5 separate regions of the Homo sapiens genome follow, and all the other regions are reported to be linked to region 1. The links are microRNA targets in miRTarBase. Many come from high-throughput screens and were not tested one by one. Region 1 holds a microRNA gene; each other region holds the end of a gene's coding sequence.
What was found. The annotated mature microRNA hsa-miR-212-5p reads ACCUUGGCUCUAGACUGCUUACU and lies in region 1 at 2,935-2,957, shown strand. An mRNA with a match to its seed (bases 2 to 7 or 8) in the 3' UTR can be bound and repressed. Matches are read on the target gene's strand: a 7mer-m8 pairs with bases 2 to 8, a 7mer-A1 pairs with bases 2 to 7 and ends in A, and an 8mer does both.

Region 2: miRTarBase lists SSRP1 as a target of hsa-miR-212-5p. Seed matches in the 3' UTR shown: 7mer-A1 at 4,422-4,428.
Region 3: the mRNA of ARHGEF39 is a reported target of hsa-miR-212-5p. Seed matches in the 3' UTR shown: 7mer-m8 at 2,582-2,588 and 7mer-m8 at 3,616-3,622.
Region 4: miRTarBase lists SP140L as a target of hsa-miR-212-5p. The part of its 3' UTR that is shown has no 7-base or 8-base seed match.
Region 5: the mRNA of C15orf40 is a reported target of hsa-miR-212-5p. Seed matches in the 3' UTR shown: 7mer-m8 at 2,404-2,410 and 7mer-m8 at 1,186-1,192.

What each region holds. Positions count from the first base shown.
Region 1 is chr17:2,047,256-2,053,284 of GRCh38, reverse strand. It overlaps MIR212 (microRNA 212), which reads left to right and starts at 2,905; the gene lies at 2,905-3,014. MIR132 (microRNA 132) reads left to right here and starts at 3,277; the gene lies at 3,277-3,377. It overlaps LOC124903896 (a long non-coding RNA gene), which reads left to right and starts at 3,336. Exons shown (of 2, transcript XR_007065576.1): 1 at 3,336-4,124; 2 at 4,527-4,578. RefSeq lists an enhancer at 1,181-2,076 and silencers at 2,622-2,771, 2,782-3,581.
Region 2 is chr11:57,321,800-57,327,828 of GRCh38, forward strand. It overlaps SSRP1 (structure specific recognition protein 1), which reads right to left. Exons shown (of 17, transcript NM_003146.3): 14 at 5,913-6,029; 15 at 5,627-5,715; 16 at 4,904-5,090; 17 at 4,189-4,679. The coding sequence ends at 4,608. It overlaps TNKS1BP1 (tankyrase 1 binding protein 1), which reads right to left and starts at 3,153. Exons shown (of 12, transcript NM_033396.3): 1 at 3,041-3,153; 2 at 1-151. The coding sequence starts at 86. RefSeq lists a silencer at 2,957-3,236 and enhancers at 3,367-3,416, 3,446-4,319.
Region 3 is chr9:35,657,686-35,663,714 of GRCh38, reverse strand. It overlaps ARHGEF39 (Rho guanine nucleotide exchange factor 39), which reads left to right. Exons shown (of 9, transcript NM_032818.3): 5 at 323-393; 6 at 641-769; 7 at 974-1,203; 8 at 1,448-1,536; 9 at 1,713-4,372. The coding sequence ends at 1,728. CCDC107 (coiled-coil domain containing 107) reads right to left here and starts at 5,423. Exons shown (of 5, transcript NM_174923.3): 1 at 5,230-5,423; 2 at 4,988-5,139; 3 at 3,254-3,314; 4 at 3,068-3,158; 5 at 2,204-2,969. The coding sequence starts at 5,335. The coding sequence ends at 2,528. It also overlaps RMRP. RefSeq lists silencers at 1,669-1,963, 5,301-5,560 and an enhancer at 5,643-6,029.
Region 4 is chr2:230,402,607-230,408,635 of GRCh38, forward strand. It overlaps SP140L (SP140 nuclear body protein like), which reads left to right. Exons shown (of 19, transcript NM_138402.6): 19 at 192-1,126. The coding sequence ends at 290. Among named protein-coding and RNA genes, the nearest start is that of SP100, 11 kb to the right of the region's middle.
Region 5 is chr15:83,000,972-83,007,000 of GRCh38, forward strand. It overlaps C15orf40 (chromosome 15 open reading frame 40), which reads right to left. Exons shown (of 4, transcript NM_144597.3): 4 at 1-4,721. The coding sequence ends at 4,626. Among named protein-coding and RNA genes, the nearest start is that of C15orf40, 7.7 kb to the right of the region's middle.

The sequences.
Region 1 (6,029 bases):
GCAGGGCCTCTCTGACCCCATCTCTTTTATCTTTTCTCTTTTTGATAGAGTCAGATCCCCCACCCCCGACTTCCAAAGAGCCCCTCCGCCCCATGTATCTTGTGCAGTGGAGTCTGTGCATTGCTAACCTGCCCCAGGGGTCTGCTGTGCCCACAGTCTTTATTCTTCAGCGTTCCCCCACATCCGCTCCCCAAGTTAACTTACTGCCCCTAACCCCATCCTCAAGCCCTCATTGCTTCTGTAAGGGAGGGTCTCACAGCCCTGCCCCAGCCCAGGCCCCTAACCCCATCCTCAAGCCCTCATTGCTTCTGTAAGGGAGGGTCTCACAGCCCTGCCCCAGCCCAGGCCCCTAACCCCATCCTCAAGCCCTCATTGCTTCTGTAAGGGAGGGTCTCACAGCCCTGCCCCAGCCCAGGCCCCTAACCCCATCCTCAAGCCCTCATTGCTTCTGTAAGGGAGGGTCTCACAGCCCTGCCCCAGCCCAGGCCCCTAACCCCCTCCTCAAGCCCTCATTGCTTCTGTAAGGGAGGGTCTCACAGCCCTGCCCCAGCCCAGGCCCCTAACCCCCTCCTCAAGCCCTCATTGCTTCTGTAAGGGAGGGTCTCACAGCCCTGCCCCAGCCCAGGCCCCTAACCCCCTCCTCAAGCCCTCATTGCTTCTGTAAGGGAGGGTCTCACAGCCCTGCCCCAGCCCAGGCCCCTAACCCCATCCTCAAGCCCTCATTGCTTCTGTAAGGGAGGGTCTCACAGCCCTGCCCCAGCCCAGGCCCCTAACCCCCTCCTCAAGCCCTCATTGCTTCTGTAAGGGAGGGTCTCACAGCCCTGCCCCAGCCCAGGCCCCTAACCCCCTCCTCAAGCCCTCATTGCTTCTGTAAGGGAGGGTCTCACAGCCCTGCCCCAGCCCAGGCAGGGTGAGGACCGCCTTGCCCTCCTGTGCACTTCACTCTTCGACCTTTCTCTCCCTGCCCCGCTCTTCCGGCCATGCCTTGCACAGCCCTCCCCATCCTGGTCCAGCTCCTCGTCTGAACACACTCCTCTCATTTAGACCCTTCCTCCATCTCGATGGAGCCAGGCTGGGCCAGGACCATGCATTTCCCCGCTCCCAACCAGGGGAACTGCCCCACAAGTCATGGGCTCTCCCTGCCAATTCTGGTCTCCGGGAACATTAACTTCTCCAGGAAACCGTCCTCCTCATCCCCTGGGGGCCCCTCTTGGCCAAGCTGCTGGTCTCCTTCACTCTCTATTACCCTAACGTGAGCTCTGGGAGCGTCCATCGTGCCACAAATGGTCCGAAGGTGGGTCCTGGATGCCAGGCTCTGGAGCGTGGCACTGACAGCCTTTCCTCTCTCCCTTGCTGAGGCTGCCCATTCCTCTCACCCCTACCTCTGGCGCGTTCCCCCAGCTCCCTCATAGAGGATCCCGTTGCTCATCATTTCTGGGGAGGTTGGCCCACCTTCCCCAACTTCTCTGCCGTCCCTCGGGTCTCCAGCTCCTGGGTGGTACCTGAATCCCCGCTGGGCCTTCCCTCCCAGGCCCAGGTTCCTCCGCTAAAGACTCCTGGGCTACTTTGGGCTCCCCTACTCTTCTTCTCCCGGCCCCCGACGCCACAGCCCTCGCTGCGCCCCAGGCCCCCACGGGAGTCCAGCTTCCTCTCCTGCCCACCCTGCAGGACGAGAGGGTGGCGACACCGCAGTGGCCTTGCGGGGTGTGACGGCAGAAACGTCAGGTCCAGGAACTGAGGAGGGGGAAGGGGCTGCCACGTGAAGACCCCCAGGAGCCGCGGGGCTCCGGAAGGAGAGCGTGAATAAGCTCGAAGGGCCCGCCGCGCCCCTCCGCGCCGCCTCCCCGGCCCCAGGCCCGCGGTTCCGGAAAGTTAACCCCTTGTCGGCTGGGCAGGGGCGCGGCTCCCCCTACCCCGCCGCCGCTTCCGCGCCCCCTCCTCCCCTCCCGGTCGCCTCGGTCCCCACCCCCCGCCTCGCCACTATAAATAGCCCCTTTTCCCATTTCCTAAATTCCCCGCTGACGTCGGCAGCGCGTCAGTGTGTAGGAGCCGCGGCCGCATGAATGAGCCGCCGCACGAGTACTACGCGCGCCTATAAAAGCCGCCGCGCCGGCCAGGCTGCGGGAGGCGACCGGGCAGTGGCGACGCGGCCCGCCAGGTAAGCGGGACGGACCAGCCGCGGAGGGACAGATGTGCGGACACGGACGGGAGGACGAGGAGGGGACGGGCAGGCGGCGGGTGGGGCGGCCCCTCCGGGGTGGGGATGGGGGCGGACGGGGGGCACCGGGGTCCCCTCGCGGCTGCGGAGCCGGGGCCAGAGACGACACGAGCCCGCGCAGCACCTGCCGGCGCCCGATGGACACGCAGCTACTTCGGAGGAGCATCGAGTGGAGGACCGACCTCGGAGACCCCCCCCCGGCTTTCTTGGGGCTCCTGCGCCATTCTCCCAGGAAAGTGAGGCGAAGGTGCTGGCGCCCCAGGAGACGCGCCCCCTCCTCTCCCTCCCTGCGGCGCGGTGACTCAGCCTCGCTGCCCGGGCCGGCTGAGCGGGGGTGCAGGCGAGAGACGGACGCCCACCCCCGCTTCCCCGGCCCTCCTGGGACCCCCGCCCCGCATGGCGTCGGGCGCCCCTTCCCGGCAGGTCCCGTCCAGCGGGTCCCGCGGCGCCCACGGCTTCCCGCCTCTGCGAGCGGAGCTGTCCTCTCAGGACCGGGGGGGCGGGGCCTCCCAGGTCCCGCCCCGCCCCCACGCCCCCGCCGGAAGTGCCCCCTCTGGGACATCTTTGACGTCACGGCCCTCTGACGTCAGGGGCCGCGTGCCTGGTCGCGAGCGCCGGGCGGGGCAGGGCGGGAGACGCAGGGGAGGCGGAGCAGCAGAGCCCCCAGCCGGGGCAGCCGGGGCGACCGGGGCACCCCGCCCGGACAGCGCGCCGGCACCTTGGCTCTAGACTGCTTACTGCCCGGGCCGCCCTCAGTAACAGTCTCCAGTCACGGCCACCGACGCCTGGCCCCGCCCCAGGACCGCGGCCCCGGCCGCCGCCGCCGCGCCCGGGGACCCCCAGTCCCCGTCCCTCAGGGCCCCGCCCCCGGCCCGCTGCCTGCGCCGCCGCTGTCCGCGGTGCTGATCAACGCAGGCGCCGCCATCGGGCCGCCCCGTCCGGGTCCCTAGGGGCTGCGAGGGGCGGTGGCCCACGCGCGCTCCTCAGCCCCCGCCGCCCCGCCCGCCCCCCCGCGGCCCTGACGTCAGCCCGCCCCGCGCCGGCGCCGTCCGCGCGCCCCGCCCCCGCGTCTCCAGGGCAACCGTGGCTTTCGATTGTTACTGTGGGAACTGGAGGTAACAGTCTACAGCCATGGTCGCCCCGCAGCACGCCCACGCGCCGCGCCACGCCGCGCCCCGAGCCGCGGGCTGGGGACGCGGAGCAGAAGGAGGCGGGGGCGGCGAGTCAAGATCCCACGTGCCCGCGCGGGTGGCAGGAGGTGCTGCGCAGGGAGGCGGCCTCCCGGGGCCGGCGGCTGAGTCCACCGAGGCTCGAGCGCGCGCGTCCTGCGGAGTGCGTCTGGCGGCCAGCCTGAGGCCGTCCTGTCCTCCCGGCCAAGGTATCCCAGCCAGGGCTCGGCGAGAGAAGGGGTCGGGCTGGGACTCGGGTTCTTTCGATTTCGGTGAGAGGGAAGCCACTGGGACCAGGAGGCTTGGAAGGAGGTTTGTCTCCTGGGGCCTGAAGACAGTAGAGGGAGGAAAGTTTTCTGAGATACTCCACAGCCCCGTTCTTCCAGGAACCCCTAGCTGAAGTGGGCATTGGGCGAAGAGTAAACTCTTGAATCTTTCCCTCTGAGCTAGGAGGATAAGAAGGGTCCCCAACCCTCTGGAAGCCAATGAGCTTGTAAAGTTAACCTGGTCCGCGAAGCGTCTGAACAGATCAGCCTGCTCACCTCAGCCTATCTCTAGGTGCTGGATTCCAATCTGAGACAGTTTCTCAAATTAGCCCTAAAGAGGAGTGAATACCACAGGGGCTGAAGTCCTCTGGTGCGGATGAAGTGTGAACAAGGATCTCTAAAAATATTATTGTATATGTCGCCTGCCTCTGCCAACATCACCCACTACAGGGGATGTCTATTGAATATCAGGTGTGAGACTTCCCCAGAGATAGTGTTGGGAATGGTTAATGCAACCCAGCCCACGACACGTTAATCCAATTTTTCTTAACGTCTCACGCCCCACCCCCTCCTTCACTCCCCACCCGGCTCCTTTGTGAAGTACTTCTAAGACACTCGTGCCGGTTTCCCAGTTAATCAACACCCACATGCTAGCCATCCCACCTCCCCAGGGCCCCGAGGTCTTGCAGATTAAAACGCACTTGCTTCTGGGTTCCAGGGGATGTCAGTGGGTGGACTGCAGTGGACTGCTGGGTGTAGTGCTCTGGGAAGCCAGAGGTCCAACCTGGCATTATCAGCAACTGGTGGTTAAGGGGCCATATTCTGTTTCTGAGCTTTCTGTAAAACGGGATAATAATCTCTTCTCCTCGGCAGGTGCACTGTGAGGATTAAATAGGATCATGTAAGTAAAAATCCAAAAACAGCAGAATGTTATTTTGATCTTAAGTATTCTGTTAGGCTACTACATGTTTGTGAAGGGGTGGTGTTGGGAGGGGACCCCAGCTCTGTGCACTTAGGCAGAATGAACGGGATGTGGGGGGTACACCTTGAGCTTTAGGCTATATATATTTATTGTCTAATATATATATAATCTATATTATATATATGTTATACATACATATACTTTTATTTTTTTTCTTCTGAGACAGTCTCGCTCTGTCGCCCAGGCTGGAGTGCAGTGGCACTATCTCGGCTCACTGCAACCTCCGCCTCCCGGGTTCACTCTGGGCCTGGGGCTGTTGAGAGGTTCCTTGCTAAGGGGGTTCTCTCTCCTAAGAGCTCTAGGAATCCAAGGTGGAATCAGAGGTGGAAAACAGAAATGGTTGGGATATTCTGAGAAGAGGTCAGAATGTGGTCAGAGGGGAAAGAACCAGAGGATTGACCGTACGTCAGGGTTGTTTAGCATCTTAGAAATCATTTAGGGCAGGGCACAGTGGCTCACGCCTGTAATCCCAGCACTTTGGGAGGCATAGGTGGGAGGATCTCTTGAGCCCAGGAGTTCGAGACCAGCCTGGGCAATACAATGCGACTCCCATCTCTACAAAAAAGAAAGAAAGGAAAGAAGAAAGGAAAGAAAAGAAAGAAAATTAGTTGTGCACACCTGTAGTCCCAGCTACTTGGGAAGTTGAGGTGGGAGGATTGCTTGAGGCTGGGAGGTTGAGGCTGCAGTGAGCTGTGATTGCACCACTGTACTCCAGCCTGGATGACAGAGTGAGACCCTGTCTCAAAAAAAAAAAATCATTATTTAGGGCTGGGAGACATGGCTCATGCCTGTAATCACACCATTTTGCGGGGCGGGGCAGAGGCTGGAGGACTGCTTGAGCCCAGAAATTCGAGACCAGCCTGGGCAACATAGTGAGACCCCATGTCTTAAAAAAAAAAAAGCCAGTGTGATAGGTGGCACCTGTAGTCTCAGCTAAGCTACTCAGGAGGCTGAAGCGGGAGGGTCACTTGAGCCGAAGAGGTCGAGGCTGCAGTGAGCCATGATCCTGCACCTGGTGACAGAGGTAGACCCTGTCTTAATAATAATCCAGCCTGGCCAATATGGTCAGACTCCGTCTCTACTAATAACACAAAAAATTAGCCAGCCATGGTGGTGCTTGCCAGTAATTCCAGCTGCTTGGGAGGCTGAGGCACTAGAATCACTTGAACCCAGGAGACGGAGGTGCAGTGAGCCGTGATCGTGCCACTGAACTCCAGCCTGGGTGGCTGAGTGACACTCCGTCTCAAATAATAATAATAATAATGGTACCTACCTCATGAAGTTGTGAGATTAAACATGAAGTTGTAAGGTTTAAGCTATATATATTTATTGCCTAATATATATAAAATATATATGTGTTATATATATATAATTTTATTTGTTTTTTTCTTCTG
Region 2 (6,029 bases), not on the chromosome of region 1:
GAGCCAGTAGGCACCAGCTCCTCCTCCATCTCCCGGGGCAGTGGGGAAGCCATGGCTGAGCTTTCCCTGAGAGTAGACACTTTCATCACATGCGGCAGACCCTCCTTGAGAGCGGGGAGGCAGAGAGGTATGAGCTGGGGTGGCTGCAGACCTAGGAAAAGAGAGAGAAGAGAAGGAAAAAAAGAGTTGGGCGTTGCCAGTAGGTTTAGCAGAGAGAAGTCTCCTATTTCTAACAGAGGCAGAGTGTGGGACAGGAAGAGAGAACTTGGAGTGGGGGGGGGGGGGTAGGAGGAGGTCAAGGGAGGTTCCCAACAGCCATATCCTCAACTCTTCAAAGATCCTCCCCAACTCTTATCTCCTAACCCCAAAGTCCTAGCGCTTCAGGGAGTCACTCACTGCTCCCTCCTCTGACAAGCTCTCCAAGACACCCCACTTACAGTCCCCACAGTGCCCCTTGGGTAGGACGGCCCCGCTGGAGGTGTCTACTCAAAGCAGAGCTAGAGAGCTGCAAAGTATGAAGTCTGTCTGTGAATCACCTCACGGGAGACGGGAAAAACCCGCTCCTCCCCAACCTGGGCTCCGCCCCACTGCCTGCCTCCCCCTTCCCACTCACCCTCCTTCCCTCTCTCCCTCCCTCCCGCAGCTGGGAGTGGTTCCTTCTCCCCCCTCTCCCTGTTCTCCTTCCACATCCCTGCCCCACTCTCTCCCCTCCCTCAGAACTGTCTCATCCAAACACGGAAAAATAAGGAATAAAAAGTAAACATCTGGAATATATTTTTTTCTTTAATTTCTCAATCGCTTGGCTTCAGCTTGGAATTTGATGAGGTAAAGCCAGGGCCTAGTCCTGTTGCCATAGCAATGGCCTCCCACTGGATTTCCAGGGCCTAGCCAAGAGGAAGGAGGAGCCGGCCCAGGCCTGGGCTGGGAGAACGGGACAGGGCTTGAGAACATCCGGGGGGTGGAGTGACTTGGGGGAAAATTCCCTGGGGCTCCACCTTCCACGACAGTCAGGGTGGAGCAGCCACAGCCTATGTATGAAAAGGGGTTATGTGGGCTTCACTCACCAGCCTAGGGTTGGCTTTAAGGAGTTCTGAGGGGGACAGAAGAAATTAAACCAAGAGGCACAGCCTGGTGGTAGAAGCCTGTCACATGAGCTTCAGGATCTGATATACCAAGATTCAGTGCTGGGTGGGTCTACCACTTTCTAGCCCTGTGACTTCTCCAAGCCTCAGTTTCTCCAACTGAAAAATGGGATTATTGAGACCCTGAGGGGGCTTACATGAAATAGTACATGAAATAGGCTTAGCACAATGCCTAGCACATAATAAGTGTTCAACAAATGTTGCCTATTATTACTGTGATTCCATTCAGTGTCACCAATGAGCTAACATCCCTGATAACCACCTCCTCCTCTTCCCTGACCCCAGGCTACCAGCATTCCCAGACCATTCCTTCACTCTCCCAGGCCCTAGTCCTGTCACCTGTTCTTCAGATACTCCAACCACCTCCTCAGTTCCCATCCTGACTCCTGAAGCACTCTCCCACCCACAAAAACATGGAGACCCTGGGGGATAGGGCCCTGCACCTCTCATGCAAGGCGGAAGTTTCCCTCACCTGGTATGCAGAGCCCTGAGGACAACCCAAACTTCTCCAACCTGCAAGGGGCATTGCCTCACTTAAAGTCACCCACTCCAGCTGGTCTGGGAAGACAGCACCAAATCCTTAAAAGGGACCCCCAGTGCTCATCCTCTGCAAAATCCAACACCCCTCCCCTAACGCTGACCCTGCCCCAGGTGTTTCAAAGATGGGAGAGGGTATGAAGACAGTAGAGAAACCCAGTACTGTCAACCCATTGGTCAGTTAACCACCACGGAAGACTGCCCACTGTGGGTGGGTGAATAACTGTGCAGAGCCAGGCCAAGTGTGGTGGGGGGAGGGGCACATGATAGAAAAAATAAAATTAAAACACAAGATTGTTTCCTTGTCCTTGAACATTATTACTAGGAACATAGTGTGGGTGGTTGGAGATGGAAATTAATTGGCTCAGAACCAAAAAAATCCTTTCACCTGGGGTTCTGATGGGCCCCTCTGCGGTATGAGGGGCTGCAGCAATGAAGGCGGGCTCAGAGTCCCCAGGTGCGGAGGTGGCCACAGCAACTCAGAGACCCCAGCCAGGGGCCCCAGGTGACCAAGGCCACCAAGGCTGTGGCCAGAAGCTGCGATTCGCAGCGGTTCTGAGCACTCCCCACCCTCAAGAGACCAGGGGGTAGAGGGTAGCAGGGTAGAAACGAGCTGACCCCTGGCAGATAAGGCCTCCAGAAGGGCTGGGCAGCTCCAGCCCCGGAGGGGACTCGGCGCAGGCGGGGTCGCCCCTATGGACCCCAGGATCTCCAGCCGGATCCGAGGCTAGAGAGGTCGGCAGGGACAGCACGTAAACTGCTGGAAAGAGGGAGGGCCAACGGGAAGATGGAACAGCCCCGGGCAATGGGCTGTCTGGAGGGGCCCAGTGGGGAGCTCTGGACACAGAAGGGACGGCGGCAGCCGAAGAGGAGGAGGAGGAGGGGGCTGCGGTGGCGGCAGAAGCGGAGGACCTGTGAGCGGGCTGTGAAGCAGCCGGCGAACAGACGGTGGGCTGCAGACGTCGATCAGGTGGGGGCGGACTGGGGTGGCTGGGGGCGTGCCGAAGGAGCCGGGGGAGGGGGCTAGCGCGGCCCGGAGGAAGGGGAGGCAGGGGTCCCTCCAGCGGCTCTGCCCGCCCCCGGCCCCGCCCCAAGCCCTCGCCCCCTCCCCCCTTTCTTCTGGCTCTGCCAGCACGAGCTCCAAGCCATGCGCCCTCCGCCTCCGCGCACACGCGCCACCTTCCCCCGGGCCTCCAGCGTCCCCAGCGCCCTCGGCCCCTGCAAACTTTCCTGGTGACCCCCCGACCACCACCACCTCAACCCGAGGTGTCGGCTGGAAAGCACCCACTCCTTCCATGCCCCTCCCCCGCCCCATCCCGGACCCCGCCCCCTCCTTCGCCCGACCGCCCCCGCGCACTCACGCGCTCGCCCGGGGTCCGGCTCCGCTCGGCTCGGGGCCCCGATGCCAGTCCCCGCCGCCGCCGCCGCTGCTACCGCCGCCGCCGCCGCCGTCACCGCGGGACGAAGCCACTGCGAGCCCCGGCGGGGCCCCGCCCCAACTCCGCCCAGGTCCACGCCCCCAGGGCGCTTCATGAATATGCATGAGCCGGTTGGAACCCGGGAGTGGGAAGCCCGTGCAGAATTCGTCCCACCGTCGGCAAACAGGCGCGGCCCAGCACTCAATTATTCATGAGGCTTGCAGATGAGGGGCCCGCCCCAGTCTCAGACCGGGGCGAAACTGACGCAATTCAGCCGGGAGCGCTCGGGTAAAATGGCCACCGAGACGACTGCCTAGAGAAACTGCCTTGGCGGCCCCTCCCGGGCTCCGCCGCCTGCACAGAGCACAGTATCATCGAGCTACGCCGGCAAGAAGGTAGCCGCCGGCTGACTGAAGCGGCTTCCTGATACAACCACCTGAGTGCTGAGAACGCGCGCAACGTGGCCACCCTCCTGTGTCAATTCAGATTTAGAGCCACCGTGAAGAAGTCTGGCAGCTCTGCATTCCTCATTAGTGACCTTTATCTCCTTTTAGGCCCCTTCTCAGACATGGGTTCCTCCCTACACTGAAGTTTGTATACCCCCTTCTTCCCGTAAGAACAAAAGCTTCACATATAACTCCGTACTTTGTTGCACCACCACCAGGCTGCAACCACCACCACTCTACGCACACGCTCATCCTCCCCGACTCTCCAGGCTCAGGTTTCCACTCCCCCGGCTGCGGGAAGGACAGTCAATCCTGATTTCATTATCGAAAGCCTTGGAAGACCCTTGACTCATAGGTAAGGATGCAGCCAAGAGCTGCCTCCCCCTAGCTTGGTTGGCTAATGGAGTGTAACTGGGAGAAACTTCCTAATCAGATCAGCTCTCATTTCTAGACTCTCAGGTGGCCCATCCGGGCAGAGGCGGGTGAAAACCAATGCTCGTCCAGCCGGGAACAGAACAGGATGTACCTCGAGACTTGCTTCCCGGCTGGCCAGGAAGGCCCTGCCCAGTCTGACCAGAGCAGTAAACACCACCAATAAAAGTGGGAGCAACACACCAAGGCTACAAAGAAAGCATGAGGACATGGTTTCCAAAGTCAGTTCCCTTTATTAAATCATTTTCACAGACCAGAAATACAAAATGAAAGTAGAAATAGGCCCCAGGTAGGAGCTACAGGCCTGGCCTCACATGACCCCTGCTCCAGCAACTTGAACAGGACAAGCAGCAGCTACATCCTTAAGGTCGGGAAAGTAAGATGAGGATTTGGATCCTGCATTGCCCTGCCTCCCACCCTATCTCTCCCCAAATTATAAACAGCCATCCTTGGGAAGCAGCAGAGTTAAGACGTCTCCCCACTGCCCTAGTGACATACACACCAACAGGAGAGCATGTTCAGATGGCACAGAATCCAGGGACTGCATTTCATGAGGAGAAACTGGTACCAAAATATGGGTGGGGAGTCGGGGGGTGTGAGAAGGCAAGCGCAAAGAGAACCTTCCTCCGTTTCTACTCATCGGATCCTGACGCTGAGTCCTCTGAGCTGGGGGGAGTACTGGCTAGTTCTTCTTCTTCAGAGTCCTGAAAACCAAAGGTGTCTTAAGGGAAAAGCTGGAGTCCTGGGTGCCCCACCCACTCTTCAGTGAAGGGCCCGCAATTCCCTACCGCCCCCAACTACAGCACCCCCCTTCAGAACCTCAGAATTCCACCATCCACTCCAACTCATTACTCTTACAGACCAACCCCACACAGACACACATGCCCCTCACCCTGCCCAGCCCACAGGCCCCACATTCCTGCCGCACCTCGCTCCTCCTCCTCTTCTTTTTGCTCTTGTTCTCTCCCGAAGAGCTCTCATCACTAGACACAAACTCTTTGCTCTTGAAGCTCTCGCTTAGCTGCCTTGAGGACGACTTGGATGATGAGCCCCTAGAGGGCGTGGATTTCTTTTCCATCTTTACCTTTACTTTCTTCTTCTTCTTTGACTTGTCCCTGTATTGGCAAGAGGGAAGAGGAGCTGGGCCTTCAGGTCCCCTGTCACCATGACCAAACCTCTCCCAGCTTTAACAAGGCCTTTCCCAATCCCAGCCACACAGCCCATTTCACTCTGAACGTAAATAGCTGCGTCAGCCTGGAGGGCACCAAGGGAGAGTATCATGAGTACACCAGAAGAATCAGAGGGCACAGCCTAAAGCAGCCCAATGTGCAAAACCTACTTGATATTTCTTGCTTTATCTTTTAGAGTTCATGCAAACTGTGCACTGCACTCCATAATAGTATTTTTTTCGTTCCCCCATACCTTCAAATAAAATGGTCCAGGAAAAGAGGCCATATTTCCCCAGTGACTTGAATGCCCTATTGTGTCACCCATACTTGGGCAATGGCCTACCCAGGTTTGAGAAGCACTACCCTACTGCAGTCAGAAGCATCTCTGCTGTCTTTAACTTTCCAATGCTCAACTTCGGCCTGTTAAAAAAAAAAAAGTCTGCCACAAAAATCAGTGACTGGGCCATGTTCTCGACACTCACCTCTTAGAAGACTCGCCTCGGCCCCCTTCATATTCTTTCATGGCTTTTTCATAGTCCCTCCTGGCATCCTCAGCCTTGCGATCCCACTCCTGTCTCACACACAGAAAAAAACAGTTAAGAATAAGACCTCTCCCATCTCCCCTCTCCCCTGATGCAGGCAAAATCGATACAGAAAGTCCCACCAATGGCTCATACTGCTCCCCTATCAGTCATGAGACTCGCCACCCCAAGACAGCACCTCTCGCCAGCCCATGAGAGGCATCACCCCTCCTCTGCTGCTACTCACCTCTTTCTTCTCTTTGGACATTCCCTTCCAGATCTCGCCTGCCTTCTTGGAAAGATCCGTGATGCTGATGCCAGGATGGTCTGACTTGATCTTCTCTCGGCTGGCATTGAGCCACAG
Region 3 (6,029 bases), not on the chromosome of region 1:
TTTCTGTCTCTGGGTTAAGCCTGAGTTAAGGGCTATAGTCAGGCTGTCTGTAGCATCCTCCTTGGGTTGATAAACTTTCATCTTCCAATCTGGCCTCCTGAAGTATGGCTAGTCTGCCAGTGACTCTTCAGTGTGGGATGGAAGAGGGCTGTGTGGTGTGAGCCTGGTTCTGAGTCCTACATGAAAGAAGGGGATACAGTAGCCAGAAGCAGATCTTTCCTGGCCTTCAATTGAAGTATGGGTAGAGGGTGATCTGCACATCAGGCAGGGGGAATTCTGCCTGGCTCTGCTTCCCCTCAGACTTCCCACTGTTGAATTCCAGGTATGAGAATCTCGTCGTAGCTTTGGCTGAAAACACAGGTCCCAACAGCCCTGACCATCAACAGCTCACACGTAGGTTCTTGCTCCTCGGCAACGCAGGCTGGAGGCTTCCTCTCCTGTATTCCTTTCTGATTCTGACCTCCAACAATGTCTGGTATGACCCTATCTTCCACTGACATGTATACAGTGTCCCTACTGCTCTGCCTTTTCTTCAAGAAGTCAGACCCTGACCCTGGTCCCTTCCAGAATAACCTCTTTCACAACCATGGCACCCAAAGTCAAAGTTGTATGGGGAGTAAGGTGGGAGATGTTATTCCAGGGGCTGCCCGACTGATAAGTGAGACTGCCCAGAGAGTCCATACTATTGGTCAGAAACAGAAGAATGACCAGCACCTTCGGCGTGTCCAGGCTCTGCTCAGTGGACGCCAGGCAAAGGGGCTGACCTCAGGTAGCTTGCCTACTTCCCCTTCAATCCTCAACTGCCCCATCTTTTATTTTTATCTAACTCCAAATGCCGACCAGCTGCTCTTTTCTTACTCACCCTTCTTCCTGTACTGACCCAGCACATAACCCCTATTTTCTCAGCCTCCCTTTCCTCTTATTCCCATGTATCTTGAAGCTGCACCAGAATAACAGCGCTCCCATCCCCCAGGGCGCTGGTTCCTACGCCAGGGCTGGCTGTTAGTGGTGCCTCCCCATGGGGAGCCTCGGCCCCGCATGTTCTTCCTCTTCACTGATGTGCTCCTCATGGCCAAGCCTCGGCCTCCACTGCACCTGCTGCGGAGTGGCACCTTTGCCTGCAAGGCCCTCTACCCCATGGCCCAGTGTCATCTCAGCAGGGTCTTTGGCCACTCAGGAGGCCCTTGTGGTGGGTTGCTCAGTGTAAGTAATAGGTGGGAACCCTAGACCCAAAATATGTCTCAGATGCTTATGGGCTGGTTTATCTCCCTGGTCTGGGTCCCTTTTCATAGGAACAGAGCCATCTACATTGAGAGAGGATAGCTGGGGCTCGGGCTTCATACCTAGTCATTGTCTCATCCCTGAATTAGCTCCATGGAAACAGCAAGGGCTTCAGCTTTAGCCTGGACCTTTCTGAGCCATGCGCTAAGAGGTGGTCTCTCTCTAGCTGTCCTTCCCTCATGAGAAGCTACTGCTTATGTCCACAGACCAGGAGGAGCTGTCACGCTGGTACCACAGTCTGACTTGGGCTATCAGGTAAGTTGTGTCTTCCCCCAGGAAGGGTGCTGTGATGAGGCCCACAAGCAGGAAATATGCAGTTCCTGTCTCATGCCCTACATTGGTCTGGCACACCCCAGCCACCAACCCCCAGATGATTTTGTCTGAATAAAGCACTCATACCAGTGCCTGAACTGACTGTCTTCTCTCCACAGCAGCCAGAAAAACTAGAGGAATCTTATAGATTCCAGAACTCAGGATACCTCAGGGATAGGTCACAGCCAAGAGTACAAAGGAATCTTCAGTACTGAACAAAACAGAACCCTTCATGATTTGACAAAGGTCACTTTCTGTTTGCCTGGACCAAGCTACTCCAGATCATCTGACCAACTCTTAAAAATCACGGCCAGGCACAGTGGCTCATGCCTGTAATCCCAGCACTTTGGGAAGCAGAGGTGGCAGGATCATTCCAGCCCAGGAGTTCAAGACCAGCCTGGGCAACACAGTGAGTGAGACCCTGTCTCTATTTAAGAAAAAATAATTAAGAAATTTTATTAAAAAAGAAGAATCAGGAAACCAAGTCCAACCCAACTAAACCTCAAATGAACCAGCCCCTAACACAGATGAGGGGATTTGGGACTGATAAGCTCTGTGCTGTGTCCATGGCCCGTCATTTATCAAGGCTGCAGCTTTGTAAATGTGGCTATTTTTATGTTGTGTATAGTTTCTATCATTTATTTTTCCACTGGATTTGAGTAAAGTTTTTTTTCTTTTTTTTGGGAAAGACCCTTCTGTCTCAGTTTTGCTATGAGAAAAGGGATTTTTGGGCCCTGAACGCGGGCATGCTGGTGGCCTCAGGAATACGAGGAAAAGAGCTGGAGCTCCCTCTATCTTCTCTGCTGTCACACTGGAAGGCAGCCTCTTTTTGTCCTAATAAGGACAGCTCTTCAAGAAGGCCCAGTTGTCCTTAGGCACCTAGTATGGGTGTGTACAACCAACTAGGATCGAAAAAACACACAGGAGCACTCCATCATGAAAACAGACTTTGTTTTAGTCGACCTTCAGCTGTCGTCCCTCCTTCCCAGCCAAGGCTGTGACTGGGGCCCTTTGCCACAGCCTGGCTGCACCTTCTCCGTAGTCCCCGCCCCACCTCCCAGGAAGTAGCTAGGTTCCATGTCTCTGTGCTCCAGTTTGTGGGCTCCTCCCAGGCCTGACTGTCACCAATCTCCTCCTCGTCCTCCTTTAAACAGAAGTCCTCAGGAAGAGGTCTGCTGGCCTCTGTGTGGGGAGAGATCAGGAATGTTCCAGTTTCAGAGACTTTGTCTCCACCTCCAGCAGACTCGCCTCCCGAGCCTTCACCTGGTTCTGAAGCCTCCATATCCTTGTCCGGCTTGCTATCTTGCAGCAGCTCGTGGATGGTCCATAGCTTCATGTTCAGAAGCTCCTGCTGGGCTCCAGCCAGAGTAGTCACACTGAAGAAATGTCCACTCAGTGGCTCCCAACCTATGTCCCCATTCCTCCCTCCTGCCACAAATTCCCCAAAAATTCACAGAATCATTGCTCTCCTCACCGCTCAAAAAGGGGGTCCAGCTGGGCCATCAGGTTGTTCAGGTGCTGCTCTGTCTGGGCCAGCTGTTGTGTCAACTGGGCCAGCTGTTGCTCTGGGGATAAGGGAAAAAAGGGGGCAGAAGTGGTTATGTATCTTCTGCTGTCCCCTAAACTCCCCCGACCCAGCACAGACTTCTGCTAAACCCACCTGACTGCAGTGGCTGCTGCTTGCTTGCCTCCTCGTGGAGAACCGCAGTTTCATCTTTCCCCTGTTGTGGAAGAAGGAAAGGGCAGTACTGAAGCAACAAGGTTCTGCTCCATCACCTCAGTCTCCAGAGCCAGCCAAGAGAGAGTGCAATTTGAGATGGAGACAGTGATTGGGTTTTTACCTCAGAGAATCACAATCCTAGTCTATCTAGCTCCTCACCCAGCATATGAAGCGACGTCCTATGTCCCACACATGGTCAGTTTGCTGAAACACCTCCAGGAATGAGCAACTCCCTCCGGTTTGAAAAAAGCTCTGGTGGCTGAGTGCTGTGGCTCACACCTGTAATCCCAGCACTTCGGGAAGCCAAGGTGGGTGGATCACCTGAGGTCAGGAGTTTGAGACCAGCCTGGCCAACACGGTGAAACCCTGTCTCTATTAAAAATACAAAAATTAGCCGGGCGTGGTGGCAGGTGCCTGTAATCCCAGTTACTTGAGAGGCTGAGGCAGGAGAATCGCTTGAACCTGGGAGCCAGAGGTTGCAGTGAGCCGAGATTGCGCCGCTGCACTCCAGCCTGGGTGACAGAGCGAGACTCCATCTCGAAAAAAACAAAAACTTTGGTTGTTAGACAGTTCATGCACAAAGCCAAAATTTGTCCTTTATGTATCTTCTTTCCATAGTGCTTACTGGAGCCTTCCAAAATAATGTCTCCTCAAGGTGACAGCCCCTCAGGAATTTGAAGGCAATGGTCACACCCTCACCCACTTTCCTGAGTTTTTTCTGGTTTATTAACGTCAGTCTTTACAGTCAGTGCTCATTGACGGTGGTTTTCTCTGGTTGTTTCCTGAACACGTAGTGCTCTTAAAGCAATGCCCTGAGGAGAATACAATTCTCCAGGGGCATTCTGATTGGCAGGTGAAGCACAGTGCCATGTTCCCAGCACTGATTTGGGAAGTGGCTTGTCACATCCCACAGTGAACTCAGTCAACTGGAATGCCTAACTCTCTTTCATAAGACCTCCTGCTACATTATGTTTCTCCCAGACTGTACTCAGGTCCAAGAACAGAATTTACTAGTCTATCCTTCTCAAAGTTCATCATTAAATTCAGTCATTCATCCTAGCCTGTCACATCTACCTGGGGTCATTATTAGCTATCTCTTCTAGTTTCATATATCTAAACTGGTTCCATCGGTTCTATTTTATAATGCAAGTACGTAATAGGGTCACGGCTAAAGACACAGCCCTGGAAGGTACTGTTTTTCAAAATGTACTGTCAACTTACATTTCAGGGCCTCCTCCCAAGGAGAACATGAGACCACTTCATATCTGGAACTCTAGAAACACTGGCTGCAGCAATCAACCTCCTGTGCCAAGGCTGGCCCCACTCTTGTAGCATGGACACTGCTAGCTGGGTTCAAATCCCAGCTCCAGCAGTTGCCAGCGCTGGGTGACCTCGAGCAAGTGACTACTCCTCACTGGATTGTAGGAGAACTAAATGTGATAGTCATTATTTACAGTTCACCACACGCTCTTCACATCCGTTACCTCCCTGGATCCTCAAAATAACCTCATAATATTGGAAGGCCAACGGACTACTGTCTTTATTTTACAGACAGGGAAGCTGTGTCTTGTTCTTGGTACCCTGGCACCCCCATGGGAGATTCGGGCTCAGGGGATCCCCACGCCCGGCGGTCCCGCACCTGCAGGGGCACCCCTACCCCCGGCCGCCCCGTACCTGCAAACACTTGTACAGCACAAAAGCCGCGACGGCCGCGGTGTACAGCGCCCCCAGAGGCAGCGACCCGGCCCGGGTCCGCTCGCGTTGATCCTTGAGCGGTGGTCGCCGCCGGGGTTCCGTGGCTCCAGAGCCGGGGTGGGCTGCGTTCCCTGCGGAGGGAGGATACAGGCGAGTCAGCCGAGCTGGGGCCTGGGACCCGTGCGCAGTCCCAGCCCTCCTCCAGCAGCCCTAGCTGGTACCTGGGTGTGCCCGGAGGTCGGGATTGGCGCGGTCTCCTAGGACCCCGGACAGCGCAGACACAAGCAGCAGCCCCACCACACCCAAGAGCGAAACTGCGCCCGCCATTGCCGGCCCACGGGTGGAGGGATCGGGCGGGCGGTGCCGAAGCGGTCCGGCATTGGCCGGCCGCCCCAACGCGCACGCGCACGCGAGCAGGCCGGCCGGCTCCGGGGAGGCCACGCCCACTCCCCGTAGGGCGGGGCCAGACCATATTTGCATAAGATAGTGTCATTCTAGCTTTCCTGTATTTGTTCATTTCGTGTCTATTAGCTATTCTGCTAGCCACAATGCCTCTGAAAGCCTATAGTCTTAGAAAGTTATGCCCGAAAACGGTTTTTTTAATCTCACGCCACCAACTTTCTCACCCTAATCATAAAACACAATTTCTTTAGGGCTATAAAATACTACTCTGTGAAGCTGAGGACGTGGTTCGTGCTGAAGGCCTGTATCCTAGGCTACACACTGAGGACTCTGTTCCTCCCCTTTCCGCCTAGGGGAAAGTCCCCGGACCTCGGGCAGAGAGTGCCACGTGCATACGCACGTAGACATTCCCCGCTTCCCACTCCAAAGTCCGCCAAGAAGCGTATCCCGCTGAGCGGCGTGGCGCGGGGGCGTCATCCGTCAGCTCCCTCTAGTTACGCAGGCAGTGCGTGTCCGCGCACCAACCACACGGGGCTCATTCTCAGCGCGGCTGTTTTTTGTTCCCGAGACCACGGCTCACTGCAGCCTCGACCTCCCCGGGCTCACGCGATGCCTCACC
Region 4 (6,029 bases), not on the chromosome of region 1:
TGATTTAATTATTCCACATAGCAGTCATAAATCACAACACTGCTTTGTACTCCAAAATACATACCATTATAAATTGTCAACTTACAGTTTTTATTTTTTAAAGACAAGAGTCCTGATCATTCTCAGTTGAAAGGTATCTAATGACACTAATGATAAGGAACATCGTTTTTGTCTTTATTACTTTTTTCCAGTATAAGGATTTTGGCCAAATGGGACTTAGACTGGAGGCTGAATTTGAGAAGGATTTCAAGGAAGTGTTTGCTATTCAGGAAACAAATGGGAACAGTTGACTGGTTTAGTGGATGCTGAAGGCCTTCAGGAAATATGCTACTGGTTGCCACTGACTTCAAACTGAGAGCACTTGGGAAATAGCACATGCAGGGAGAGGCTTTTCTCTGAGCCTCCCTCATCTGCCCAAAAACAAATCCTCAAAAGAAATTTGATCATCATGAATCCCATCCCCAAGAATCTCATCAACCAGGGAAGAGGAACTGAGATCACAGGGAAGGAGATTGGAGGTGATACCAGCACAGACAGACTCTCACCTCTTCTCCTGAGGTCTGCTCCAGACAACATTTATTACTCACAAGACCTTTTTCCTCCGTTTTTTTTTTGAGATGGAGTCTCACACAGTCACCCGGGATTGGAATGCAATGGCGCGATCTCAGCTCACTGCAACCTCTGCCTCCCGGATTCAAGTGATTCTCCTGTCTCAGCCTCCCAAGTAGCTGGGATTACAGTGCCTGCCACCATGCCCAGCTAATTTTTTGCATTTTTAGTAGAGACGGGGTTTCACTATGTTGGCCAGGCTGGTCTCGAACTCCTGACCTCATGAGCCGCCCGCCTTGGCCTCCCAAAGTGCTGGGACGTGACAGGAGTGAGCCACCACACCTGGCCACTCGCAAGACCTTTTATCTGAAAACCAGCCAAGCTTTATTCACGACACACTTCTTCCCTTCACTCTCCCACTTCTGTGGTCAACTCCCTGCAGAACTCCCAAACTGCCGTTCTTTTCGATAGCTCACGATGGTGTATGAGTGTCAATCATCTGACCCTTCTTGGAGTCTCATATTTCGTGGAACTCCTGTGCAAACATATATTATTAAATTTTTTTTCCTCCTGTCAATCTACTTATGTCAATTTAATTCATTCGTAGCTCAGCCAAAGAACCTAGCAGGGTAGAGGGAAGCCATTTTTCCCTCCCCTGCAAAGCGGTTGGCATCCTGGCACCATCTCCTCTTCTGACCAGGTCTTTTCATCCCCAGCTGCTGAGTGGTGGCTGCTGATGCCAGCAGTCCCCAGAGTATTACCCTTCGTTAAATGGAATCAGCTTCACCTGGAAGTGACGCCCCGTGGCCTGAGGCCGGCCCCTTTGCCTCAAAGCAGGACCAAGGGTGTGGTGTGTGGCTACTCTGTGCTCCCAGGTATCAGGCTGGAGCTAGTCTCCAGCTGTGGCCACATCGTGGCTTAGCTTTTGCCCACATGATGAGCTTCCCCCACTCCCTTCTGAGCAAACCCTCACCATCAATCTCTTGCTTAATGGACTTCATCCCAGAATGTGCTTCTGGGGAATGCAACCTAAAGTAATGGCCCCAGGAAGCGAGCTCTGAGGACAGGATTCTGGAGTTGGATCACTGTCTAGCCCAGTGATGCTGGGTGGAATATGGATAGTCCCAGAAGTGCTATCACTGAGCAGTTGCCCAAATTTTCACCTGTAGTAAATTGGATGAGCTGCAGGTCAAGCTATTTTAGTACAGCTATGTACTAAAATAGCTGGTACAATTGTCTGGCATTTAAGAAGTGAGGAAAAGTAACTATAAGAAATATGGGTTTTGGTGGGTATTACTAAGTGCCATTAATGTCTTGAAAAGAGTAAATGACAGGCTTAGATCTATTCATTACCAACCTAAAGAGAAGAGACCCTCATACCTGGAGCTGGAAGGCAGACAGCAAGGAAGGTCTGGTACAGACCTGATTTTATGAATCGCAGAACTTCAGAGAACACTGAATTCTAAGCTCAGGATGGTCTCTTATGCCAAAGTCAAGGCCTTCAAACTCAGCATGGGGCTATCTAGGTAGATGTACATGAGAACTTTGAACTCCAGATGCCCCCTGAACCTACTGGGTTTGCAGAAAAGTCTTTCTGCCCCTTGTTGGAAGAGAGAGCTACCACCCCCACCCAACTCCCGATTTTTCTAGAATGAAGACTGTATAGAGACCGCTCAGGACAATGAAAGTGAACAATCATGGGGAGGGCAGCAAATGAAGAGAGCATTTATCCTCCGAAGGAGCTGTAGGACTGGCCAGCGTGCATCAGCAGGAGCAAGGAGATTGTGTCTGGGAGTGGATCCTGGTCCAGGAAGGGTGAAATGTGAAACCAGATAAGTGACGATTATTGGCAAAGGGGCAAGCTTCTCTACCACAGAGTTTAACTAGCCTGGCTTGGGCCAAAGGTGATGATTCTGATATACTCCTGGGTGGCTCCTAGAGACTAAGTATAAGCCATGGTACACATTAAATCAAGTGGAAGCAGAGATACCAGAACTACTGTGGCAGAGTCTGGAAAAGTGGGTCCCAAGGATAGAGAAGTTGGTGTGCTAGAATGACTCTGCACTCTACAACTGGAGAATCCATCCATCAGGTGACTGAGTTCCTCCAAAGGGGACACTACTAATGTGTCTCAGACACTAACTAAGGTGAGAAGGAATGCACTGTTGAGGGGGCAGCACATCCTTAAGAAGCTCAATGGTGGCTGTCCCCTGCAGGCTGGAATAATGCTAGGGATGTTTTATAGAACTGGATCCCCCAGTAGTGAGTAAAATGATAGAGTTCCAGAATAACAGGGGCCAAGTGGCAGCATTTAACTGTGAGGACAAGATAAAGTAATTTCCGTAAGGGGCATCAACGTTAGAGTGACAACTGGGAGGCCTGACCTGTAGGTGTCCATGAAGATGGCTCTTAGGACATGCTGTTCCTCTAGGCAAGACACATATTGCTTTAGACATATAATCAAAAGAGATTGAAAATAGATGAGCAGAAGGCTGAGGTCAGCTATCTAAAGGTAAAGTCTTAGACCCCTTGCCCAGCTTCCAAACCTCAGCCAGTTCTCAGTGGAATCCAGAACTCACTGATGGAAATGAGGGCAGTTTCTCATAAGGAAGAACCTTGTAAGTGTGCGCATCACTGATTCCCTCAAGTTTTCACGGGAGGGCTCTATGGCCAAATTTTTTGAGTTACTCACATGCCGGGGAAAGGAAAATACACAGATCTTTCAAGGGATGTTGAGTACAATATCACAGTTGATGCTAATCCCTGAGGACTCAAAGCCCTTTCGTAGCCCCTGTTAGAGTAGAGTACGTGGAGGTGAGGTAATGTCCATCTCACAATGGGCCCTCTGGATCCACAGGCCACCCAGCAATCATTTCCCCATTTCCTGAATGTATAATCAGGATATACATTCATACATACATCATAAAATATAGCAATTGGCTGACCTGGTTCCTTAACCTCTGGTTTCCTAACCTATGAAATAACAATGACTGTTTTAGGGAAGGCCAAGCAGAAGCCTCTGAAACTGAAGTTTCATGGTGAAAACAAGTAAGTTAAAAGCAATATCACATTCTTGGGGAATGATAGAGATTAGTGCCACCTACAAAGACATGGAGGAGGCAGGGGTTGTTACCCCAGTTACACCTCCATTTTAATTCAGCAGTCTGCCCTCTGGTATCTCCTGGTGGTTCATGCTGCTAAATGGCTCCTAAAACTTAACCAAGGAGTAGCCCCTATTACAGTTGCTGTGTCAAACGTGGTATCTTTATTATAACGGGTTAGCACAGCCTTAGCAAGTGATATGCAACTATTAATACGGAAATGCCACTTTTAAAGGATCCGGCAGGATGTAGGTTGAGAGGAAATTCACATTCTCAAGGATTGGACAAGAGTATATCTTTACAGTCTTGCTCCAGGGCAAGGTGAATCCTGCTCTGTGTTACAATATAGGCTTTCTGGACACTCTGCAATACATTACATTGGTCAACTGTATTGATGACAGTATGTTCATGAGCCTGATAAGCGAGAAATGTTGACTATTCTGAATGACTTAGTAAGTCATAAACACTGCAGATGGTGGGAGAAAAACGTTACAAAGATACAGAGATATGCCATATAGGTAAGCTTTCAGGGGTTCAATGGTCTGGAACGTGTCAGAGCATCCCCTCCAAAGCTCCAAGCTGTTGCACTTCATACCTCCTGCCACTAAGAAACCCAGAGCTTGGTGGTCCTCTCCAAGTGAGGAGAATCACCGTGGTTGACATTCTGATGAAAGTGATTCTAGGCTTTGTAATGTGGTTGTGTGTTTGGGAGGCAGGGAGTGGGGAGGCAGTGGGTATACCATCTTCATAAATAAAAATGTGCTAATCAATGTTTTTCACTTAACAATATAAGATGGACATTGTCACATCAGTAAATACAGCTCTACATCATCTGTGCCTTACCTTTCATTTATCCTCAAAACTGGATGACAGTTGGCTCTTTGATTATTTTTGGTCTGGTAAGCATAGTAATTTGTACTGAGGGGCAGCACAGACTAGCATTCAGTAGCACAGCCTCTGTAAGTGGAAGCCCAGTTCCTGCACTTCTCCACTTGCTGACGGTGTGTCCTTGGGCAACCTACTCATCCTTCCCCTGTACTGTTTCATCTGTAAAAAGGAGATACTAGTAGTAAATAGCTCACTGGATTATTGTGAGGATTAAAGAGTTAATATTTATTATGCACTTAGAAAGTGCTGGCCCTCCATGCAATACATATGTAATAAACAAGCAAACTTAAAAGATTAACATAAACACCTTTGTATCAATTCAGGCTCTTTGCTGTCAAGAAAAACCCAATATATACCCAAAAGAATAGAAATCATTCTATGATAAAGATACATGCATGTGTGTATTCATTGCAGCACTATTCACAATAGCAAAAACATTCAATCAACCCAAATGCACATCAGTGATAGACTGGATAAAGAAAATGTGGTACATATACACCATGGAATACTATACAGCCATAAAAAGAAACTAGATCATGTCCTTTGCAGGGGCATGGATGGAGCTCGAAGCCATTATCCTTAGCAAACTAATGCAGGAACAGAAAATCAAGTACCATATGTTCTCACTTGTAAGTGGGAGCTGAACAACGAGAACACATGGACATAGGGAGGGGAACAACACACTGGGGACTGTTGTTGGGGGCAGGGGAAGAGAGAGGATCAGGATAAATAGCTAATGCATGCAGGGCTTCATATCTTGGTGATGGGTTGATAGGTGGTGCAAACCACCATGGCACACATTTACCTGTGTAACAAACCTGCACGTCCTGCACATGTATCCCAGAGCTTAAAATTAAATTAAATTTAGAAAAAAAAAGAAAAGAATCCAATCACAAAAGACCACATAATTTATTATTCCATTTATATGAAATGTTTAGAATAGGTAAATCCATAGAGACAGAAAGTAGATTGATTGGTGGTTGCCTAATGCTGGGAGGTTGAGGGGAAATGGGTATGTGGTTTCTTTTTATGGTGACAAAAATGTTCTGAAATTGATTGTGGTGATGTTAAAAAGCCCTATGAACATACTACATAAATTTGAATTGTACAATTTAAATGGGTAAATCGTATGGTATGTTAATTGTATCTCAATAAAGCTGTTAAAAAAATAAAAAAGAGAGAGACCCAATTTATCTAGGGTAGACAAAAGTTACTTCGATGATGATATCACAGTGCCTCACAGAAAGGGCCGGAAGGCAGGGTTACAGAGTTGGCAAATGGCCCTGGAAAAGGGCAGGAATCAGAGCATTTCCAGGCAATCATGCAACAGGAATGACACAGCCATTCCCTAAGGATGTTAAGATTTTACTAAATGTTGTTGTTGATTTTTTTAACCTCTCACAATACTTCACTCAAAAGCTCAACTCCCCCCAAACAGCATCTGGCTGGCCTGGCCTGCTCAATGGCCAGCATTGTGATTAACAGCCCCTC
Region 5 (6,029 bases), not on the chromosome of region 1:
CCAGCGAATATTTGTATTTGTAGTAGAAACAGGGTTTCGCCATATTGGTCAGGCTGGTCTTAAACTCCTGACTTCAAGTGATCCACCCGCCTCAGCCTCCCAAAGTGCTGGGATTACAGGCATAAGCCACTGCACTGGCCTAGGTGTGCACTGCAAAGGTTCCACCTTCATCCTCTGGTTATTGCTGTCCCTCCCCTAACCGAGAGGAAAGTGTGGAATGGCTCACAGAAATCAGAAGTCTGAAATCTCTGCTCCTGCCTCCAGGGCATAATGAGCCAGGCTGTTCTTTCCCAGGATCTGTCGAAGTACAGCATAGGCAAACCACCTAGCAGTGTCTGTCAAGTAAGCAACCAAGTTAATAAGTGATTAATACATCATGTTTGCACAAGTAATTATCATTTATTAAGGTGCGGGTGATAGATGACAGATGCAGTGCTAGAACATCATATGTCGGCATAGTTGGATAAATATTTTTCAAACCTTATTCATAGGCTGCTTCAAATCCAGGATTCTCAGGACAGCACAGGACAAGAAAGACAGTGTAATCAAGTCACTATAGACTGCCTAGCCAGTACTCACTTGAAATTAATGGGAGTGAGCAAAGCTAGAACCATGTCATTAGACAAATGTTACGGAGGCTGAATATTTTGTGTCTTGGGCACTAGGTCACTGGGTCTACTTCAGTATTTACAGGGGAATACCAGGGCCCAGATGATGAAAAGTACATTAACTGAGCTTCTACAGCAGGTCAAGGTGCCCAAGCCTTAGCTGTGATCTCTTAACAGTAGGAATAGTCCTGTGTGAGACAATTAAGTTGTGAGGCTGCTGTAGACTATCTTGTTTGCAGTGGGGAAAAGGGAATCGTGTTCTGGGAATACAGCCCCTGGGCCAGTTCCTACCTCCAACAGTAGTTTGTTTTGTTTTGTTTGTTTCTGTTTTTTTGTTGTTGTTATTGAGACAGAGCCTTGCTCTGTCACCCAGGCTGGAGTGCAGTGGTGTGATCCCGGCTCACTGCAGCTTCTGATTCCCGGGTTCAAGCAATTCTCCTGCTTCAGCCTCCCAAGTAGCTGAGATTACAGTCATGTACCACCACGCCCAGCTAATTTTTGTAATTTTTAGTAGAGGTGGGGTTTCACCATGGTGGCCAGGCTGGTCTTGAACTCCTGACCTCAGGTGATCCACCCACCTTGGCCTCCCAAAGTGCTGGGATTACAGGTGTGAGCCACCATGCCCGGCCCCAAAGTAGTTTTTGATGACAGAGTGTCCCCATATCTTCTTTGTTACAAGATACTGCTACGTTTCTCAAAGAAAAAAACTCACTAGGCAAAATGTTCCCACGTTTAAAATATCACCGTTTAAAATGAAGTAAATAGGTTATCGTAGTAGAAACTGGTGGTTCCTCTCCAGCATCCATTCCTCTCTTTGTAACTTTTCCCAATTTTATTCAGGTATCCAACTCTCTCTACTTCTTTGCTTCTGAGTATGCTGACCCCATTTCCACCTCTAGGATGGGCCTTAATTGGCCTGAAACAATTAGGGTAATTCTTTCTTCTATAGTTACTGCTTTAGGGAACTTGTGTTATAGAATGGCATTCCCTGATCACAGGGGCTGGCTTAGAAATTTCATGTGACTTGATTTGGGCTGATACAAGGGAAGGCTGACTGAAAGCTTCTGGAAAATACCAGAGCTCCTAGGAGTGGCCTTTTCTCCTACTGCAGGGGTTGATACGTGAATATGAAACCTGGTTGGCCTTTTGTCTACATGAAACAAGTGGGCCTGAGGATGAAACTGGCACTGCAGAAGATTCAGGGGAAGGAAAGAAAGCTGATTTTTTTTTTTCTTGAGACGGAGTCTGCCTCTGCAGCCCACGCTGGAGCGCAGTTCGCAGTTGTGCGATCTTGGCTCACTGCAACCTCTGCCTCCAGGGTCCCGGTTCACAAGCAATTCTCCTGCCTCAGCCTCCCGAGTAGCTGGGATTACAAGCATCTGCCACTATGCCCAGGTAACTTTTGTATTTTTAGTAGAGACGGGGTTTCACCATGTTGGCCAGGGTGATCTTGAACTCCTGACCTCGTGATCTGCCTGCCTCGGCCTCCCAAAGCGCTGGAATTACAGGCGTAAGCCAACACGCCTGACCAAAAGTTGATCCTTTTTTTTTTTTTTTTTTTTTGAGATGGAGTTTCGCTCCTTTTGCCCAGGCTAGAGTGCAATGGCACGATCTCAGCTCACCGCAACCTCCAACTCCCGGGTTCAAGCGATTCTCCTACCTCAGCCTCCCGAGTAGCTGCAATTACAGGCATGTGCCACCACGCCCAGCTAATTTTTTGTATTTTTAGTAGAGATGGGGTTTCTCCATGTTGGTCAGGCTGGTCTCGAATTCCCGACCTCAGGTGATCCACCTGCCTTGGCCTCCCAAAGTGCTGGGATTACAGGTGTGAGCTACCATGCCCGGCCAGGAAAGTTGATCTTTTATGATATCATTTTATGACATTCTAACAGTGATCCATGTAAAATCCACAAGTAAAACGGCTTTACAGCACACATGGCAATGGTCTTGAGAAAGAGTGGGAAAAGCTCTTAAGACCATGTAAAACAGAAGCACATTTGCAGGCAGTATATGGCACAGTTTAGAAGACAAAGCAGCTGGGCTTAAACCAAGCTCTGCCATTAATGTGCACTGTGATCTCACATAAGCCACCTTTTCTTGCCCTTGATACCTATTTGGTACAAGTTAAGAGTTGTACTAGACGAGTAGCTTCTCTTTCACTGTCTGGGATTTTTTCTTTCTTTTTGAGACGGAGTCTCACTCTTGTCGCCGAGGCTGGAGTGCAGTGGCACCGTGTGGGCTCACTGCAACTTCCGTCTCCTGGGTTCAAGCAATTCTCCTGCCTCAGCCTCCCGAGTAGCTGAGATTACAGGCACCCACCACCATGCCTGGCTAGTTTTTATATTTTTAGTAGAGATGGGGTTTTACTATGTTGGCCGGGCTGGTCTCAAACTCCTAACCTCAGGTGATCCACCCGCCTCGACCTCCCAAAGTGCTGGGATTACAGGCATGAGCCACCACACCCGGCCTGGACTTCTTATATATGAGGTCTTATATATAATCTTACATATAAATATATATATCTATGTATAAAATCTATCTATGTATATCTATCTATCTATAAAGAAAGAGACAGAGACAGATACAGGGTCTCACTTCGTTGCCCAGGCTGGTCTCAAACTCCTGGGCTCAAGTGTTCCTCCTGCCTCAACCTTCCAAAGCGCTGGGATTACAGGCGTGAGCCACCAAGCCCAGCTACCATCAGCAATTTTTATTATTGTTCTTCCTTGTGGATTTTGTTTTTAATGATTTGGTCCATCAATACATCTTTCTCATGTACTTGCTGGACAAAGCGCACAACTGCAGATCAGCTCTCCTGATCAGCAAAGGAAATTAATTTTATTTTCTTTAATAAATTACTATAACTTGACCTGAAGATGTAAAAATATATTATTAGCTTTTGAAACTTTAATATAGATGTAATTTCTGACAAGCTTTTACAAATACTGAAAATAGCTTCCAAGTCCTCTTTCTTCTTTTAAGGATCTTTGGAGATTCATAAAAACTACTGAATTTGCTGATTATTTAAGTTATTAGAGGAAGATGAAAATTCAGTGACTTCTCAAAAATTATAATTCACATTTAATTACAAGTCATGATTTTTCTTTACTTTTTCAACAAAATGGTAAATATAGTCTTTAAAAGATGTAAAAAAAAAATTTTTTTTACATTTAAATAAGCATTTAAAAATCTAAGGTAAGACTACAAAGCAGCATAACAGGTTTTCTGTCACTTGTAAACTGGATTAGAAGGCAATCCCCAGAATTCCAGAACCGTTGTGGAGATATGATTTTTAATTTACAATCTAGAAAAACTGCATTCAACAAGTAGTCCAAGGATTTGGGTTCTAGTTGCCAGCTTGCATGGTACAATCTTGAGTAAGTCTCTCAACTTCTGGATATAGGAAATCAAAGGCCCCCCAACAGAATGAAAGGTGTTAAATCAGGTCATCTTGAATATTCTTCCCAGCTCTGTTATTTTACAACGCCATGAAATCAGAGTAACATGTTCCAGGCTGTTTGGGGTTTGGGATTTTAGAACCTGATGCAATGTATAGCACTTTTTAAATTTCTACTTTTTGGAGTCTTATTCGAATATATACATATATATATGTCCCCCATGTTCTTCTGTGCATGTAGTATATTTTTCTATTTAACAGCCTCTTCACCATTAGCAATAAAAAAGTTTCTCAAGGATGTATTTTTTATTTCTTTTTTTTCGGGGGGAGAGAGTTTCACTCTTGTTGCCCAGGCTGGAGTGCAACGGCGCGATCTCGGCTTACTGCAACCTCCGCCCCCCAGGTTCAAGTGATTCTCCTGCCTCAGCCTCCTGAGTAACTGGGATTACAGGCATGCGCCATCACATCTGGCTAATTTTGTATTTTTCGTAGAGATGGGGTTTCACCATGTTGGTCAGGCTGGTCTCGAACTCCTGACCTCAGGTGATCCGCCCACCACGGCCTCCCAAAGTGCTGGGATTACAGGCATGAGCCACTGCGCCCGGCCTCATTTCTTGCTTTTATGTTTTTTTGGCTTCCTTTTTTAATTTCTCCAAGATCTCTTCTGGAGTTGTAGAAGCCAAAAGCTTCACCACCTTTTCACGAGATTTACCACCCTGGACCAAAAGAGAAAAAGCATACTTTACTGTTTAGCACATTCTAATGCTATTAGAGATAGCAGACCTCCGTTGTATAATGGGCTCTCCTGATGGCTTTCTCTTGGTTACTTCTGGTCTAACCAAAGACTATCTCTTAGATTCTTCCTTACTACCATTTGTTACTAAACATTTGTTAGTACTAACAACTCTCCAGGGTTTTTACCTTCATACATCAATTTCTATAATAAAAGCTGGACATTAAAATCTCAAAAATGGGCCAGGCGCGGTGGCTCACGCCTGTAATCCCAGCACTTTAGGAGGCCAAGGTGGGTAGATCACGAGGTCAGGAGTTCAAGACCAGCCTGACCAACATGGTGAAACCCCGTCTGTACTAAAAATACAAAAAATTAGCCGGGCATGGTGGCATGTGCCTGTAATCCCAGCTACTCAGGAGACTGAGGCAGGAAAATCGCTGGAACCCAGGAGGCAGAGGCTGCAGTGAGCTGAGATCGCGCCACTGCACTCCAGCCTGGGCAACAGAGCAAGACTCCATCTCAAAAAAAAAAAAAATCTAAAAAATGATATTCTAGTCTCAAGCAATTAAGTTAAAAATGAAAATCATCTTTAAAATACCAAAATAAATATTGCAATTTTATATAAACTTTGTAGTAAAATAATTATAAATATAAACAAATTGCTATTCTCTATGTTGTTAAACATTTCTGAAAATTCCAAACAAAAAGTAGCCACATATCCAAGTGCCACGATTTCACAACCACTTAAAACTTTAAAAAGGATTTGTTGGCCAGGTGTGGTGGCTCACACCTGTAATCCTAGCACTCTGGGAGGCTGAGGCGGGTGGATCACCTGAGGTCAGGAGTTCGAGACCAGCCTGGCCAATGTGGCAAAACCCTGTCTCTACTAAAAATTAGCCAGACGTGTTGGCGCGCGCCTCCAATCCCAGCTACTCGGGAGGCTGAAGCAGGAGAATCACTTGAACCGGGGAGGGGCGGGGCGCGGGGCGGATGTTGCAGTGAGCCGAGATTGCGCCATCGCACCCTAGCCTGGGCAACAAGAGCGAAAACACCGTCCCAAAAGAAAAAGAAAGGATTTGTTTTCAAACACAGCCTTTAAAGAAGATAAAATTTGAGAAGGGGTTTATTTAGATGAGTGGAATTTGAACAGGCAGAAGAATGAGGAACATCTTTCAGGCAAACGTCAGCGCATGAGCACTAGCCAAAAATCAGAAATGACCTGCCACAGGTGGGGAGCATTCAAATGGATTTTTAGGTGCAGTCTGTTAATCAATGACTGTGAATGCCAGCT